2 linked regions of the Homo sapiens genome follow. The protein of the gene in region 2 binds, or shares a complex with, the protein of the main gene of each other region. Each region holds a gene or a part of one and is shown on either strand. Other genes may lie near its edges.

What was found. Proteins that work in one complex are often made in the same cells at the same time.
Region 1: CENPC (region 2) and CENPA share a complex: the UniProt entries of both Homo sapiens proteins name them as parts of the CENPA-NAC complex.

Annotation. Positions count from the first base shown.
Region 1 is NC_000002.12:26,781,097-26,789,324, reverse strand, and holds the start of CENPA (histone H3-like centromeric protein A), read right to left. Parts: upstream 3,270-8,228; 5' UTR 3,129-3,269; coding exon 3,029-3,128; intron 1-3,028. UniProt on the Homo sapiens protein: Histone H3-like nucleosomal protein that is specifically found in centromeric nucleosomes. Replaces conventional H3 in the nucleosome core of centromeric chromatin that serves as an assembly site for the inner kinetochore.
Region 2 is NC_000004.12:67,542,491-67,550,744, forward strand, and holds the start of CENPC (centromere protein C), read right to left. Parts: upstream 3,014-8,254; 5' UTR 2,866-3,013; coding exon 2,848-2,865; intron 1,706-2,847; coding exon 1,659-1,705; intron 1-1,658. UniProt on the Homo sapiens protein: Component of the CENPA-NAC (nucleosome-associated) complex, a complex that plays a central role in assembly of kinetochore proteins, mitotic progression and chromosome segregation.

The sequences.
Region 1 (8,228 bases), on a different chromosome or scaffold from region 2:
GGAACAGAACGCTTCAAGGAGAAAGAGGCCCACTGCGTCAAATGCTTCTGAGACACAGTAAGAACACAGACCCACCTACTGGATTTGGCACTACAAAAGGTGCTAGTGACCCTGACAGGAGTAGTTCAAGCAGATTAGAAGTGGGGGTAGTGGTTGTGGGGAGTCAGATTGGAGTGGGTTGTAGGGTCACTAGGAAGGGAGGAATCAGATGCAATGTATGTGGACCTAACAAGTCTGGCTATTTTAAAAGGACAGCTATGAAGGGAAGTAGAGGGAAATGGGAGGTATAGGGAAGTGAGAATGTGGGGTCAAGGAAACACTCCTGCCCTTTCTCTTAAGATCGTAAATACGGCCAGGCGCAGCGGCTCAGGCCTGTAATCCCAGCACTCTGGGAGGCCAAGGTGGGCGGATCACTTGAGGTTGGCAGTTGGAGACCAGCCTGACCAACATGGTGAAACCCCGTCTCTACTAAAAACACAAAATTAGCCGGATGCGGTGGTGCATGCCTGTAATCCTAGCTACTCGGGAGGCTGAGGCAGGAGAATCGCTTGAACCCGGGAGGTAGAGGTTGCGGTAAGCCGAGATCACGCCGTTGCTCTCCAGCCTGGGCAACAAGAGGGAAACTCCGTCTCAAAAACAAAAACAAAAACAAAACAAAACAAAACATCATAAATACTAGAGCATATGTGCCGATGCCAGTGTGAAGTGTCTGGATTTATCTAAGCACAGGTAGAAAGCTCCTCTGTAGGTGAAAGAAGGATATGACCAAGACCCCATGTAGAAGGAAGGGCTTTGATAGGAAGGGGGACACCTAGTCAAGGCCATTATTGGCTAAGAGTGAGTGGGGGGAATGGAGCTGTAGGAAGTCGAGGAGGGAGAAAAAGGTATGAAATAGTCATGGGGAGAATGGAAAAGCAAGAATTCCAGACAAAGGCCAGGCACGATGGCTGTTTTTTTTTTGTTCTGTAGAGACAAAACAATTTGTCTCTACAAAAAAGGTTTAAAAATAGTCAAGCATGGTGGTGCAGGTCTGTCATCCTAGCTATTCAGGAGGGTGAAGCAGGAGGACTGCATGAGCCCAGGAGGTCAAGGCTGCAATGAACCAAGATAGCACCACTGCACTACAGCCTGGATGACAAGAGTGAGACTCTGTCTCGAAAATTGAAGAAAGAATACCAGACAAAGGTGGTAGGACTGCCAAGAAGTGTTGACTGCCCATTTGAGATAAACCTTCCATTTAACCAGGAGTAGAAGGATGCTTCTACCTTGGAAAGCAACAGCAAACATCATACTTAATATTCCTGTTAAAATTACAAACAAGACAAAGATGACCAAAACACCACTCTTAGTGAGTCTCAGGGCCTTACTAGTACCATACAATAATAAATAAAATGTGTAGAAATGAAAACGGAAGATTCAAAAGTTATTTGCAGATGACATAATAGTCTACTTAAAAATTCCAACTGGAGCAACTAAAAACGACTAGGGTGAACGAGAATTCAGCAAGTTGGCTGGAAGCAAAGGTTAAATCCTCGTGTTTTGGGAAAGAAAAAAAATCCCATTCGCAACAGCAACATCTAGAAACAACCTACTCCAGCCTAGGCAACATGGCAAAATCCCACCTCTACTAAAAATACAAAAAATTAGCCGGCATGGTGGCATATGCCTGTAGTCCCAGCTACTCGGGAGGCTGAGCTGGGAGAAGCACCTGAGCCTGGGAAGTTGAGGCTGCAGTGAACCCTCGTGGCATCACTGCACTCCAACCTGGGCGATGGGTCTCAAAAAAAAAACAACAAAAAACCAAAAAGCCGGCCGGGCGCGGTGGCTCACGCCTGTAATCCCAGCACTTTGGGAGACCGAGGTGGGCGGATCACGAGGTCAGGAGATCAAGACCATCCTGGCTAACACGGTGAAACCCTGTCTCTACCAAAAATACAAAAAATTAGCCGGGCGTGGTGGTAGGCGCCTGTAGTCCCAGCTACTCGGGAGGCTGAGGCAGGAGAAGGGCGTGAACCCAGGAGGCGGAGCTTGCCGTGAGCGGAGATCGCGCCACTGCACTCCAGCCTGGGCGACAAAGCCTGACTCCGTCTCCAAAACAAAACAAAAAACCCAAAAAAGCCTGTAGGCACAGTGGCTCATGCCTGCAATCCCAGCACTTTGGGAGGCCCAGGCAGGAGGATCACTTGAGGCCAGGAGTTTGAGACCAGCCTGGGTAACACAGGGAGACCCAGTCTCTACAAAAAGCAATGAAACAAATAAACTACAATACACTTCCCATCTTCCTCATAGCTACGTAGCAAGAGTTAAGAGATAAGTAAAGCAGCTGTTGCCACCATGTACCATACAGGCATCTGCCTCCTCCTGCCGTTGGGTCTCCCATCCACCAGCCCACCATAGACAATTAAGACACAGACTTCGGCCCCTTTTCCCGGACACAAGCTCTGGAAGGCAACAGAGTGAGCAGCGCAGAGGGCCTCGGTTCAAGGCCTAACAGCCTCTCCCGGAAGGGAAAAAAAACCCCTGAAAGACACCTCCTAAGAGGACTCCTGTTTGAAATCGTCACCGAAAGCAGTCAATACTTTTGCAATTTAAAAATGCACAAACACAGAGGATTGGAAATCCCGTGTCCGCCAGAACACCAAGTTGTGTGACTCTGCTCAAGCTCTCTGGCCTGTGCCTCGGCTTTCTCATTAGCTGTAAAATGGGCACAATATGAAGCTGAGATAACGCACGAACAGTGGGAGGCAATGCCTGGTTGGCGGTGGGCGGTGGGCGCTGGGTAACCACTAGTCCTAACAAGAAGACGGCGTTAGGAGCCAAGTGGCTAAGCCGGTCCCTTCCCGCTTTCGGAACCGCCTGCTCCAGCCCCTCGCAGGGCTGGCACCGCCCGTGCCCGGAGCGGATGCCGGACGGCGGAACCGCGTTGTCCCCCAACAGGGAAGTGCCACGGGATCGGGACTCGGGAGATCCGGGCTCCGCCTGCGAGCCTCGGTTTTCTCCTCTTCGAGATGGGGCCGCGGCCGGTTACCTAAGGAGGGGCCCCGCCGGGAGGGGCCGGGGGTCGGGGTCGGGCTCGGGCTGCGCCTCCTCGGGGCCTCGGGCTTTCGGCTCCGGCGGCGCGGGCCCATGACACGCCGCAGAGGGTGCTGGCGCCCGGTCCCACGGCTCCTGCTCGGGCTGCCGGGTCCGGGAGCGAAAGGCTGGCTTCTGGGGAGCCCAGAGAACGCTGTGCCGCGAGCCTCACATGAGCCGGTGCTTGGCAGAAGTCCGCGCCGCTCGCGTTCAAATCGCTCGCTCCGCCCACTTCACGGCCGGCGTTTTTTAAAACCCGAATCCAGCGACTCCCAGTGGCTGACTCTGGAACGCCCCTTACGTAGAGCGACTGCAGGTAGGGCCAATGAGAGTATGCACCGAGACACAAATATAGCGGCGATGATAGGAGGACAGGGGAGACTGATGGTAAAATCAACCAATAGACAACTAAAGAGATGGGGCGGGAAATTCTCCTGCCCCCTGCTTGCCAATCTGGTTGCTGGTCTTTGCGGGACCGTACTGACGTCCTCAGGTGCCCTCCAGTCAAAACACCGAAGCTCAGTTTGGAACGTGGATGGTGTGTTTGTAGAACGTGCTTTCTAGAAAAGTCGCTTTCCTCAAACATTTTATGCTTTGCCTTAGCAACGCAGAGATGGCTTTTAAAGATGAGGAAACAGACCCATAGAGAATGTGACAACCCCGTGTCGTATCTGCGACTCTCCCAGGAACTATCCACAGATATACTCAGAATCCAGTTCAACTGCATAAACTTTGCTGACGCTTGGGGTCGCGGGGACGGCGGGATCGGCGGGGCTTTGAGAATAAGGTCCGGGCAGGGCAGGCCTCGGCACTATAGCAACGCAATCGTCCCAAAAAAATGCTCTCTTCCCTTTGTTGGGGATAATAAAAATTCAAGTCATGTCCCGGTATGTAGAATAAGGGGAATTTTAATTTTCTAAATTTTATTTCTTGCATTTTCTAAATGTTCTACAGTGAACATGTAATCAGGAAAAATGTTATAAAATTAGTGATTTCATGGAACCCTTGTGCATTGCTGGTGGGAGTGTAAAATGCTGCGGCTGCTGTGAAAAATAGTATTGGTGGTTCCTCAAAAAATCAAAAATAGAATTACCAGATGATCCAGTAATTCCACTTCTGGCTAAATATCCAAAAGAATTTAAATATAGCCAGGGACTTGAACAGATATTCTCACACCCATGTTGATAGCGGCATTCTTCACAACAGCCCGAAGGCAGAAACAGCCTGAATACACACCAACAGATGAACGGATAAACAAAATGGGGTGTATACCACAATGTTATTCAGCCTTTAAAAGGAAGGGAATTCTGACACCTGCTGCAACATAGATGAACCTTGAGGACGTTATGCTAAGTGAAATAAAGCAGTCCACCAAGGGACAAATGCTGGGCTGGGGTGCGGTGGTTCATGCCTGTAATCCCAGCGCTTTGGGAGGCCAAGTTGTTCGGAACCACTGAGTTCGAGTTCGAGTCCAACCTGGCCAACATGGCGAAACTCCATCTTGCCGAGCGTGGTGGCTCACGCCTGTAAACCCAGCACTCTGGGAGGCCGAGGCAGGCAGATCACCCGAGGTCAGGAGTTCAAGACCAGCATGGCCAACATGGCGATACCCCGTCTCTACTAAAAATATAAAAATTTGCCAGGTGCTGTGGCTCACGCCTGTAATCCCAGCTACTCAGGAGGCTGAGGCAGAGTTGCTTGAACCTGAAAGGCGGAGGTTGCAGTGAGCCGAAATCATGCCACGGCACTCCAGCCTAGGCGACAAGAGTGAGACTCTGTCTCAAAAAAAAAAAAAAAAAAAAAAGAGAAGGGGAAGGAGAAGGAGGAGAAGGAAGAAAGAAACCCCACCTCTACCAAAGATACACACACACACAAATTAGCCCGGGCGTGCAGATGTATGCCTGTCGCCCCAGCTACTCAGGAGGCTGAGGTGGGAGAATCGCTCGAGTCCAGGAGGTTGAGGCTGAACTGAGCCATGATTGTGGCACTGCACTCCAGCCTGGGCGACAGAGTGGCACCTCTCTCAAAAAAAAAGAAAAAAAAAAAGGACAAGGCCGGGTGTGGTGGCTCATGCCTGTATAATCCCAGCACTTTGGGAGGCTGAGGCCAGTGGATCATGAGGTCAGGAGATCGAGACCATCCCGGCTAACCTGGTGAAAACCCGCTTCTACTAAAAATACAAAAAATTAGCCGGGCGTGGTGGCACGGGCCTGTAGTCCCAGCTACTCGGGAGGCTGAGGCAGGAGAATTGCTTGAACCTAGGAGGGGAAGGTTGCAGTGAGCTGAGATTGTGCCACTGCACTCCAGCCTGGGCAATAGAGCAAGACTCTGTCTCCAAAAAAAAAAAAAAAAAAGGACAAATACTGTATGAGGTACCTGGAATAACGGAACTCATAGAGACAGAAAGTAAAATGGTGGTTGCCAGTGAGTAAGGGAGGAATGGGGAGTTAGTATTTAATAGGTGGGGAGTTTTAGTTTGAGAAGATGAAAAATTCTGGATATGGATGGTGGTGATGGTTGCACAACACTGTGAACGTGCTTAACGCCACTGAACTGTACACTTAAAACTGGTTAAAATGGTAAATTCTATGTTGTGTGTGTGTGTGTATATATATATATATATATATTAACCCCGCCCCACAACCGGGTCTTGCACTATTGTCTAGGCTGGAGTATAGTGGTGCAATCACAGCTAACTGCAGCCTTGAACTGCTGGACTCATGCAATCCTCCCACTTCAGCCTCCTGAGTAGCTGGGACTAACAGGAATGTACCATCACACTTGGCTAATTTTTTTTTTTTTTTTTTTTGAGATGGAGTCTTACTTTGTCACCAGGCTGGAGTGCAGTGGTGCGACCACCACTCACTGCAACCTCTGCCTCCCGGGTTCAAGCGATTCCCCTGCCTCAGCCTTCCAAGTAGCTAGGACTACAGGCGTGTGCCACCACGCCCAAAGTGCTGAGATTACAGGCGTGAGCCACCGCACCCTGCCACTTGGCTGATTTTTTAAAAAACATTTTGTGGTGCCATGGTAACTCTGGCTTATCATATAGCCCTTATTATATAGTCATGTATATATAATAAAGGCATTATACAGTTCCCATGCTTAACAATGGGGATATGCTCTGCGAAATGTGTTGTTAGACGATTTTGTCATTGTGCAATCATAAAGTGTACTTACACAAACCTGGATGGTATAGTGTATCACACACCTTGGCTATATGGTATAGCCTATTGCTCCTAGGCGACAAACCTGTGCAGCATGTTCCTGTACTGAATACTGTAGGCAACTGTAATGCAATGGTATTTGTGTATCTAACATATGTAACCTAGAAAAGGCACAGTAAAAAAACAGTATAAAAAATGGGCTGGGTACACTGGCTCACCCCTGTAATCCTAAAATTTTGGAAGGCCAAGGCAGGAGCATTGTTTGAGCCCAGTAGTTCGAGATCAGTCTGGGCAACGTGGTGAGACCCCATCTCCGCAGGAAATAAAAACAATTAGCTGGGCACGGTGGTGCATGCCTGTAGTGCCAGCTACTCGGGAGGCTGAGGCAGGAGGATCACTTGAGCCCAGGAGTTTAAGGCTACAGTGAGATAGGATCATGCCACTGCACCCCAGTGACAGCAACAGATCAAGACTCTGTCTCTAAAAAGAAAAATTTTCCTTCTTCAATAATAAATTAATCTTAGCTTAATGGTAACGTTTTAACTTTATAAGCTTTTGAACTGTAAAATTTGACTCTTGTAATAACACTTAGCTTAAAACACACACTGCAAGTATACAAAAACATTTTTTCTTTATATCTTTTTTTTTTTTTTTTTTTTTTTGAGACGGAGTCTCACTCTGTCGCCCAGGCTAGAGTGCAGTGGCCCGATCTCGGCTCACTGCAAGCTCCGCCTCCCAGGTTCACACCATTCTCCTGCCTCAGCCTCCCAAGTAGCTGGGACTACAGGCCCCCGCCACCATGCCCGGCTAATTTTTTGTACTTTTAGTAGAGACGGGGTTTCACCGTGTTAGCCAGGATGGTCTCGATCTCCTGACCTCGTGATCCACCCACCTCAGCCTCCCAAAGTGCTGGGATTACAGGCGTGAGCCACCGCACCCGGTTTATATCTTTATTTTTAAGCTTTTTTTTCTTTTTTGAGACTGAGTCTCACTGTTGCCCAGGCTGGAGTGCAGTGGCGTGATCTTGGCTCACTGCAAACTCTGCCTCCCGGGTTCAAGTGATTCTCCTGCCTCAGCCTCCTGAGTAGCTGAGATTACAGGCTTGTGCCACCATGCCCAGCTAATTTTTGTATGTTTACTAGAGACAGGGTTTTGCCATGCTGGCCAGGCTGGTCTCGAACTTCTGACCTCAGGTGAACCACCCACCTCGGCCTCCCAAAGTGCTGGGATTACAGGCGTGAGCCACCATGCCTGGCCTCTGGCTGCAGTATCTGTGGCAGAATGGGACAGGCGAGGATTGAGAACCAGGACATCTGGCTTTTGCCTGTTAACTGACTGTGTGACCCTTGGGAAGTTACTTCTGCTTTTTGGGTTTCTTCATTTGAACAATGAATGGAGGACTAGGTAATTGGTATGCTTTTCAAACATTGGAGAGATTTTCCACACCAACATTCTAGAGGCTAGCTCCAGACATCCTCTTGTGCCCCTTCTCTCTCATGAAAAATGTCCAGTACTGCTGATATAGTTTGGATGTGTGTCCCCACCCAAATCTCATATTGAAATGTAATCCCCAATCTTGGAGGTGGGGCCTAGTGGGAGGTGACTGGATCATGGGGGTGCATTTCTCATGAATGGTTTAACAGCATTCCACTTGGTACTGTCCTCTTGAGTGTTCTTGTGAGATCTGGGTGTTTAAAACGTGTGTGGCACCTCCTCCTGCGCCCCCTTGCTCCTACTCTGGCCACATAAGATGTGTCTGCTTCCCCTTTGCCTTTCCACTATGATTGTAAGTTTCCTGAGGCCTCCCCAGAAGCAGAAGCTACTATGCTTCCTGTATAGCCTGCAGAACTGTGAGCCAATTAAACCTCTTTTCTTTATAAATTAAATTACCCAGTCTCAGGTATTTCTTTACAGCAATTCGAGAATGGATTAATACAATTGCCAATTTTCCTTTTCTTTTTTTAAAAAATAAAAGCCAAAATAACACTT
Region 2 (8,254 bases):
CCAATAATCATCATCCAAATAGATGTGTAAAGTTACTTTTGGAGCTTTGCAGAAATACACTTAATTGGTCACTTCCCACAAACCAATTTAATTAGATTTCCTAGGGTGATGGAGGTAATTCTGATGTGCAAATCTAGTTAAAAACCCCTAGCTGAATCCTATGCCCTCATTTTGCAGATAGGCAAACTGAAACCCAAAATGGTCAAATGGCCTACCTCAGTTTGTAAACCTAAGTAGTATTAGTGGCCGGTTTTCTACCAGAATATATATAGGTGACTATTATAAATTCTGGCCTTGACATCACCCCAAAATACCACCTACAGGTGCACATATTGCACAGCTATAAATACACTCCTGCTATTACCTGTTTCAAGGATGAGATCCAAAAAGATCAGATTTGCCAAGGTGATAATGCAGAGTCACTATTAGAACGCAGGTCACATTAGGCAACAGCTTTTTCAAAATTTATCAAATTCGTCTTTTCTTCCCCTTTGTCATTATTACCTTAGCATAAAAGCACCTCCACCATGTGTAGATTACTACAACACCCTCCTTAAGCTACTTTGTAAACATCAAACATCTTTGCTTTTTTAAATGTGTGTGTGTGTTTATATCAGATAGCCCTTATTCCACAGAAGATTTAGGAGAGCTTATTCAAGCCTATAATAGATGCCTAAAGCCTAACATATCCATTTTATGGCTCAATCCAACTCATATGGTCTTGTTTTCCACTTCTACCCAACATATTCAACCTTCTTAAATCAGGTCTCTCTGCTACTGACAAATATATGTATTCCTACTTTGGTTCCTTCGTTAAGTTACTTTCTATGTCTGGAATATACTTTATCTTAGTCTTTAAATACCTGTTCAAGGTCCACCAAAGTTACACTACAACTTTAAAGCTTTTCTTAATATCAACAACACACAAATCCCTAATTTCTCACATGGCTGTCTATACTGCAAGTTAATGCCTAATTATATATAGGCCTACTCTCTATGATACACAAGTCATTACTTCAGTATTGCAAGTAATAATTTTTGTCCATTAAATTGTTTCACAAATGTACATATACATTTTCCCAACAGAAATCTAAGCTTCTTGTAAACAAAAGAACATACTTCTGTGCCCCATTGGACCTACTAAAATCACAGCTCAATAAACATGACGTTATTCATAATAACATCTTCACTTTTAAAAACATGCTTTTCATCCTATTACTAGTAAATATTTAACTAGAAAATTTACTTTTTACAGGTTTTACAACTAAAAGAAGAACCAAAACAACCCAAACAAGCACTCAACAAATGCACGACAGCATGTACTATTTTTCTTTTTGCCCCACTGAATAAGCTACATCTTTCTAATTTTACCATTTGATTCATTCTACAAAATGCTTTTCCCATGGCAGTCACTTAGTCAGAACTGAGACTCCCTCTTCCTGGTTCCACTATTTTATCAGGTGAATTTCTTTTTTCACAGCCACAAAGTCATTGCACTGCTTGCATTAACATTCCCGTTAGTATAAGATGACTACCCTTAATCAGTGGGCACAGAAATCATTATATTAGTCAGAGGTGATAGTTTTTCCTTTCTTCATTTAAAAATCTATTAACGATGAGAATAAAAATAATCTTAAAAGCTTAAGTACGTAAATCACCTGGAAGGTCGACAAAATCTTCTTCTGTAGCCATTTTTGAGATGATCCTGAAAGAAAAGTAAATCATCAATTTGGTTTCTTTAAGATAGAGTCGAGTAAAATTTATTTTCAAAGTAACTTCATCCAGTATGGGCATGCTATACACCAAACATCTCCTAAGGGCTCAAAACAATTTTGAGGTTATGTTATGACATAACATAGGTTATGACAGGCATTTAAAAACTGAACTGCAGGCATCTGGTAAGCTTTATTCCGCTTCTCTCCCCACAGTGAGAATGGCTTTATTGCTTTCTTCTGATTATATATAATGTAAACAATATATGTGCTCATAGTAAAAAGTATAGATTATATTATTCTTTCATACAACTCTTTATGTTTATATGTATAACGTCACATAATGGGAGATCATCGAAGCTGAAGATTTTCTTAGAAGGGGAGATAAATTAGAAAAGAAATGATACGGATTTTTATATAGTAACCATAACCAAAGTATGAAATATAGAATAGTGAACACCAAAGAAGTCCAGAAATATGTAAACAAAATGAGTTGTCGCCCCCATTAGTCATTCACAGCTTGTACCTTTTAACTGATAGCTGTCTTTCAGAAGAGTTTGTCAATAACATATGCTCCATAAATCAGCCTCAAGAACTGCATAAAAGGCCACCATTTTGACAGAAGAACTGAAAACGTCAAATTATTTCGAGACGTACTTGTTACATAATCTGTTTCTCCCAACTACCAAGTGTGACGCAAAGACACACTTTTAAGGCGTTTCAATACTTCTACCATGGGGAGAAAAGTTATTTGGAGGCCTAGGAACTGGAGCTAGACTAAAAAGCAGAAGCCAAGATCGCGCCACTGCACTCCAGCCTGGGGGACAGAGCAAGACCCCGTCTCAAAAACAAAAACAAAAAAAAACCCAGCAGAAATCACAAGCACCTCTCAAGAGTAAGACGTAGGCACAGACGAAATGACGACATGAAAACTTAAGAAATAATAAAAGTACAGTAAATTAACTCTGGTTATCGACACACGATCACACTTGATTTCAAAAATTCCTGCGGCTTTCCCACTGAAATCCCTCAGAGATCACAGCCTCAGCCTAGCATTTCCTTCTCCCCAGCCTCGGGCGCCCGTGCCCCAGCCAGCCGCTCAACCACTCGCCTGGAGCGGGGGGCCTGCACTTACCAGACCGGACGCAGCCATGTTCCGGCCCCGCTGAGCCAGCGCAACTGTCTGAGGTGGAAGCCCACACGGACCACAGCTCCAGGAAGCCGAGCAAGAAACGAATCGCCGGAATACCAGGCCGCGGCCAAGCAATAACCTTAAGTCTCAGGCGACTGCCGCGAGAGCTGCGATCCGGAAGGCGCGCGCTAACAACACTCCCCCGCCATTGGCTCCGCCCTCAACAAACAAGAACGCTTGGCCTGTGCCTGGGTTTGAACCCGGAGACACATGCGCAAAACGGGCCGCGCCGTCCAATAGGAAGCAAGCCGTTAGTGGGCTCGCCCCTTCATGCTCCAGGCCAACGGCCCTCCAGCCTGCAGACCCACCCGCCCGCCCTACCTCTAGCCGCTCTGCTCTTCCCACCTCCCTTCCTCAGCGCCGCGCCCGGGACAGGCGCGAGACTGGGCTTTTATTAGGAAGGCACGATCCTGGGAACCGCTCCTTGTGCCCAATGTAAAACTTCTCAACAGTTCTATTAAGGAATAATAAGTAATACTTGGAAGGATGAGAGGTAGAAATTGCAGACGACTTTTTTTTTAATAGAATCTTTTTTTGAAGAGATTTTTCTAATGCAGATTCGTCAGCCACGCCCAGCCCATCTAACCATCATCTCTGAAAATAATTGAATAATTATGTATAATAATGGTGATGATGGCTTGTATTCTTTTTCAAGTATGTGGGCGATATTTTTATGATGCATTGCCAACAAATGACCCACGTAAATATCTATCATTTAAGTATGATGCACTGAAAAGAATTCTATACAGAATCCTGAAACCTGCCAGCCATTGACTAGCTATGTTATGGAGGGCAAAATTGCGGCACCATTCTGGGTGTTTCCATAGTGATAGAATGGAAGTCTAAATTAGACGCTCTGAAGACTTCTCACCTGACCAGTGTATGATTCTATGAAGCTGTATCTTATTTTATTATTTAATTTAAAATTACAAGAAAATTCTAATCAGAAAATAGTTTACTAATTGAATAAATACATTAATCAGGAGTTGAGCTAATAGATTTTTAAAACATGTAGTGCTTTAACAAATGCTGTCAACTATGAAGGCCAATTTTTTTATTTTATTTATTTTTTTGATAGAAAAAAAGGAACTATGATCTCTGACTGAAATTAGGCCTGGATTGCACTCCATTCCATTAATTCTGCCATTATGGGCAACTAAGTTATCTGTTCCTTAATTCTCTTGTCTGCAAAATGAGAATACTATTAAAGTGGTTGAGATGTTGTAATTGAATAATTCCTGTTAAGATCTAAGCACAATGTTTGGAACATAGTAAGAATTCAATAATAAAGCTATTGGAATCATTATGGAGAGTTTTTTACTATGTTTGGCAGTTTTGCCAATCAGTCCAACTTATAATTTGGTGCTGTCACATTTGGAATAGATAATGATAAACACTAACATTTATTGACTGCATACTCTATGCCCAGTTCTGAAATGCTTTGCATGCATTGAAGAGAACAATTAATATTCCTGTTTTATAAACAAGGGCACTGAAACACAGAGAGCTAAGTGTCTTACCCAAGATCACATCACCACTAAATGGTAGGATGGGTTATTATCCCAAGAATTCTCACTCCACAACTGAGCTCTTAATCACTACACTCTTTGCCTCTGGGTAAGAAATTTTAGCAAGCACGATTATAGATGTAAAGTCCCACATGTAAAATTATATCCTCCTGCTTCCACTGGAAACTAAGTCCCACACTTATTTTGAGAAATTTGGAATGCAATGGCTTGTGCTGCTGCAGAAAGCAGGCCACAGAGGGCGTTGAGGATTAACTGTTCTAAAGAAAATAGAGCAGTACTCTTATAAAAACAGTTGTGGAGACTCCACAGTTTCCAGAGAAACGTTTTACTTCCATATGTACTTGTTGTAGTACTTAATAGCCCACCATGGTTTTAGTATCCTAAAATAGGATTGCTAATTAATGGGGGGAGTAATATTTATTTAAAAACCCAAGTTTGTCGTTATAAATCTCCCCCCAAAATACATCAAAGATTACTTCTTATGAACTGCTAGGACAATCTTGAAGTTTTCTTTCACAACTACTTACCTAGTTAAGGGGTGTGTGTGCATGTGTGTATTTACATATCAGTATATGGAAGTATTAACATATACATAATTAGATGTGTATATGGGAACATAAAGTATCCAGAAATTTGGCTTGAAAGAGAAGTAAAAAAAACTTTTCGTTACTTATGGTTTTAGGTACATAATTTAAAATTTGTAAATCTTGAAACTATTTCAAAGAATATTTTGTTTTAGATCTTTGATTTCCATCAAATAACTATGGTATGGGTATTTACTACCAAAGTGTCTTCCATTAAGTGTTAGCACAAAAATATTCACAACTGAACTAACACTTAAAAATTAGTCTGTATTCATTCCCACCCCACAGCTTAACATGTGCATCTGTCCTGGTGAGTGGATAAACAAATGTACCTCAATGCAGTGCAATACTCTTCAGCAATAAAAGCAAACTACTGATATACAATATGGATGAATCTTGAAAGCACTGTACTAAGTGAAAGAAGCTGGACATCAATGACTGTATGAAAAGAAATCAAATCGCTGGTTACCAGGGGTTGAGGAGGGTGGGGGAAAAAAGACTGTAAAGGAATAAGAGGGAACTTTTTGCGGTGCTGAAAATATTCTATGTCTTGATTACGATGGTAGTTACATGGCTATATCTATTTGTCAAAATTCCTAGTTAGAACTGTGCCCCTGAAAAAGGCGACCTTTTTTTTTTTGAGAAAGGTCTTGCTTGGTTGCCCAGGCTGGAGTGCAGTGGCACAATCAAGGCCCACTGCAGCCTCTACCTGCTGGGCTAAAATGATTCTCCTGCCTCAGCCTCGTGAATATCTGGGACCACAGGCATGCACCACCACACCCTGCTAATTTTTTTTTTTTTAATTTTTTGTAGAGATGGGATCTTCCTATGTTGCCCAAGCTGGTCCTGAACTCTTGGGCTCAAGTGATCCTCTGGCTTCTGCCTCCCGAATTGCTGGGTTACAGGCATGAGCCACCACACCTGGCCAAAATAGTGACTTTTACAGTAAATTATACCTCAGTAAATCTGTGAGAGCGATGATAAAAGAGAGAAAGAGAAAATGAGAGAGACTCAAAGGCACTGTATGAAAACCAAATGCAATGTGTAAACTTTGATTAGAGTCTAGTTCAAAACAAAGTAACTGTAAAGAGCATTAAGCAATAAGTGAAAATGAAAAAATTAATTTTCAGATGATATTAGAGAATTGTAAAGTTTTCTTAGGTATTATAATGTGATTATGTCTATGTAATTTGTCCTTACTCTTAGGATATGCATATCAAAGTATTTAGAGGTAAAATGTCTTGTGATATTTGTAAGTACTTTGAAATTGTTAATCATAAAGAGATTGAGATAGTTAAATACATACGGCAAAATATTAACAATTATTGAATCTAGTTCATTGGTGTGTTTATTAACAATACTCTTTCAGTTTCTCTGTATGTTTGAAATATTTCATAGAAAAATGATGGGGAAACTTGAACTTAATAAAATTGCTTAAGTTCTAAAAACTTTTGCAAAAACATTTATTATTTATTCTGCAAAAGTCAAAAGTGAAAATATTAGCAAATGACTATCATATAATTTTGTCAGAAAAATTACACATGAAAAATGAATTTCTTCTAAAAAGTATAGCATAGTCACAATTATAACAATATTTGCTAAGATAAAATAGACTTAGTTTTATGATTTTGGTTTTTTTTTATAATGTAATTTTTTTTCTTTTACTCCTTACTGCCAAATGTTGGTCCCTCTGTTAAGGAGATTCATTTAAGTATCCTTTTCTGATAAAAAATTATCCTCCAATAGAAATGCTATCTATGCTATGTAGACCATAATGGAAAAGTTAATAAAATGTGCTTGCAATGTACAGGTAGGTGGCAGCAATGTTTACAAAATAGTTTTACCACGCTATGAGTTGTTAAGGTCTGCAATGTGTCATTAATTGTAAAGTGCTATATAAATTAACTGATCTTTACATTTCCTAAATTACCTTTGTGTCAACCATTGCTTATTAGTTATAGTTATATTCTATTATGTACACATTGTTTCTCTTAAGATCACAACAAATAACACTATTCTGTAGATCTCCATTCTGCATCCTATAAGATAGGATAGTTTACTTCTAGTCAACTTATTTTCTACTCACACAAAGGAAATTTTGTCATTGAAAACACATTAAGATTTTCAAAAGCTTAATAAAATGGTTCTGCATTGTAATTTTACTCTTGAGAGGACTTAAATTACCCTGAGTGAAAATTGGCAAGTAATGTAGGATACTGTTTTTAAATTTCAGGCAGTCATTGCTTTGCAAAGTAGTACAGGACCCTTAAAAAGACCCTGTAAGCTGAAACCATGCAAACCGATCTTTGCTTGGGAAAAATTCTGATTGTTTCATGACCTTTAAAAAAAAATTATCAGCTGGAGGCGGTGGCTAACGCCTGTAATCCTAGCACTTTGGGAGACTGAGGCTGGCGGATCACCTGAGGTCAGGAGTTCAAGATCAGCCTGGCCAACGTGGCAAAACCCCGTCTCTACTAAAAATACAAAAATTAGCTGGGCGCAGTGGCTCACGCCTGTAATCCCAGCACTTTGGGAGGCCGAGGCAGGCGGATCACGAGGTCAGGAGATCGAGACCGTCCTAGCTAACATGGTGAAACCCTGTCTCTACTAAAAAATACAAAACAATTAGCCGAGCATGGTGGCGGGTGCCTGTAGTCCCAGCTACTCGGGGGGCTGAGGCAGGAGAATGGCATGAACCCGGGAGGCGGAGCTTGCAGTGAGCCGAGATCGTGCAACTGCACTCCAGCCTGGGCAACAGAGCGAGACTCCGTCTCAAAAACAATAAAAATAAAGATACAAAAATTAGCCAGGAGTGGTGGTGTACGCCTGTAATCCCAGCTACTCGGGAGGCTGAGGCAGGAGAATTGCTTGAACCTGGGAGAGAGGCTGCAGTGAGCCGAGATCACGCCACTGTACTGCAGCCTGGGAGACAGAGCGAGACTCAGCCTCAAAAAAAAAAAAAAAAAAAAATTATCAAAATATTAACATGTCTCTTGCTGTCAGTTATAAATTTATGGGGAAATGAAAAAATAGTAAAACTAATACTTATATAGCACATTGTAACTCAAAGCATTAGAAACATTGAGCATTAAAGTGCTTTAGTTCTCAGTTTTGTTTTCTATTTTTTTATTTTTGGCTCCTGACAGGAAACATGCTTTAGTTCTTTGTAAAAAAAAAAAAAAAGAAAGCTATCAAGAATAGTTTGAACAGTGCCTGCCTCCTCAGCTGTAAGTTATG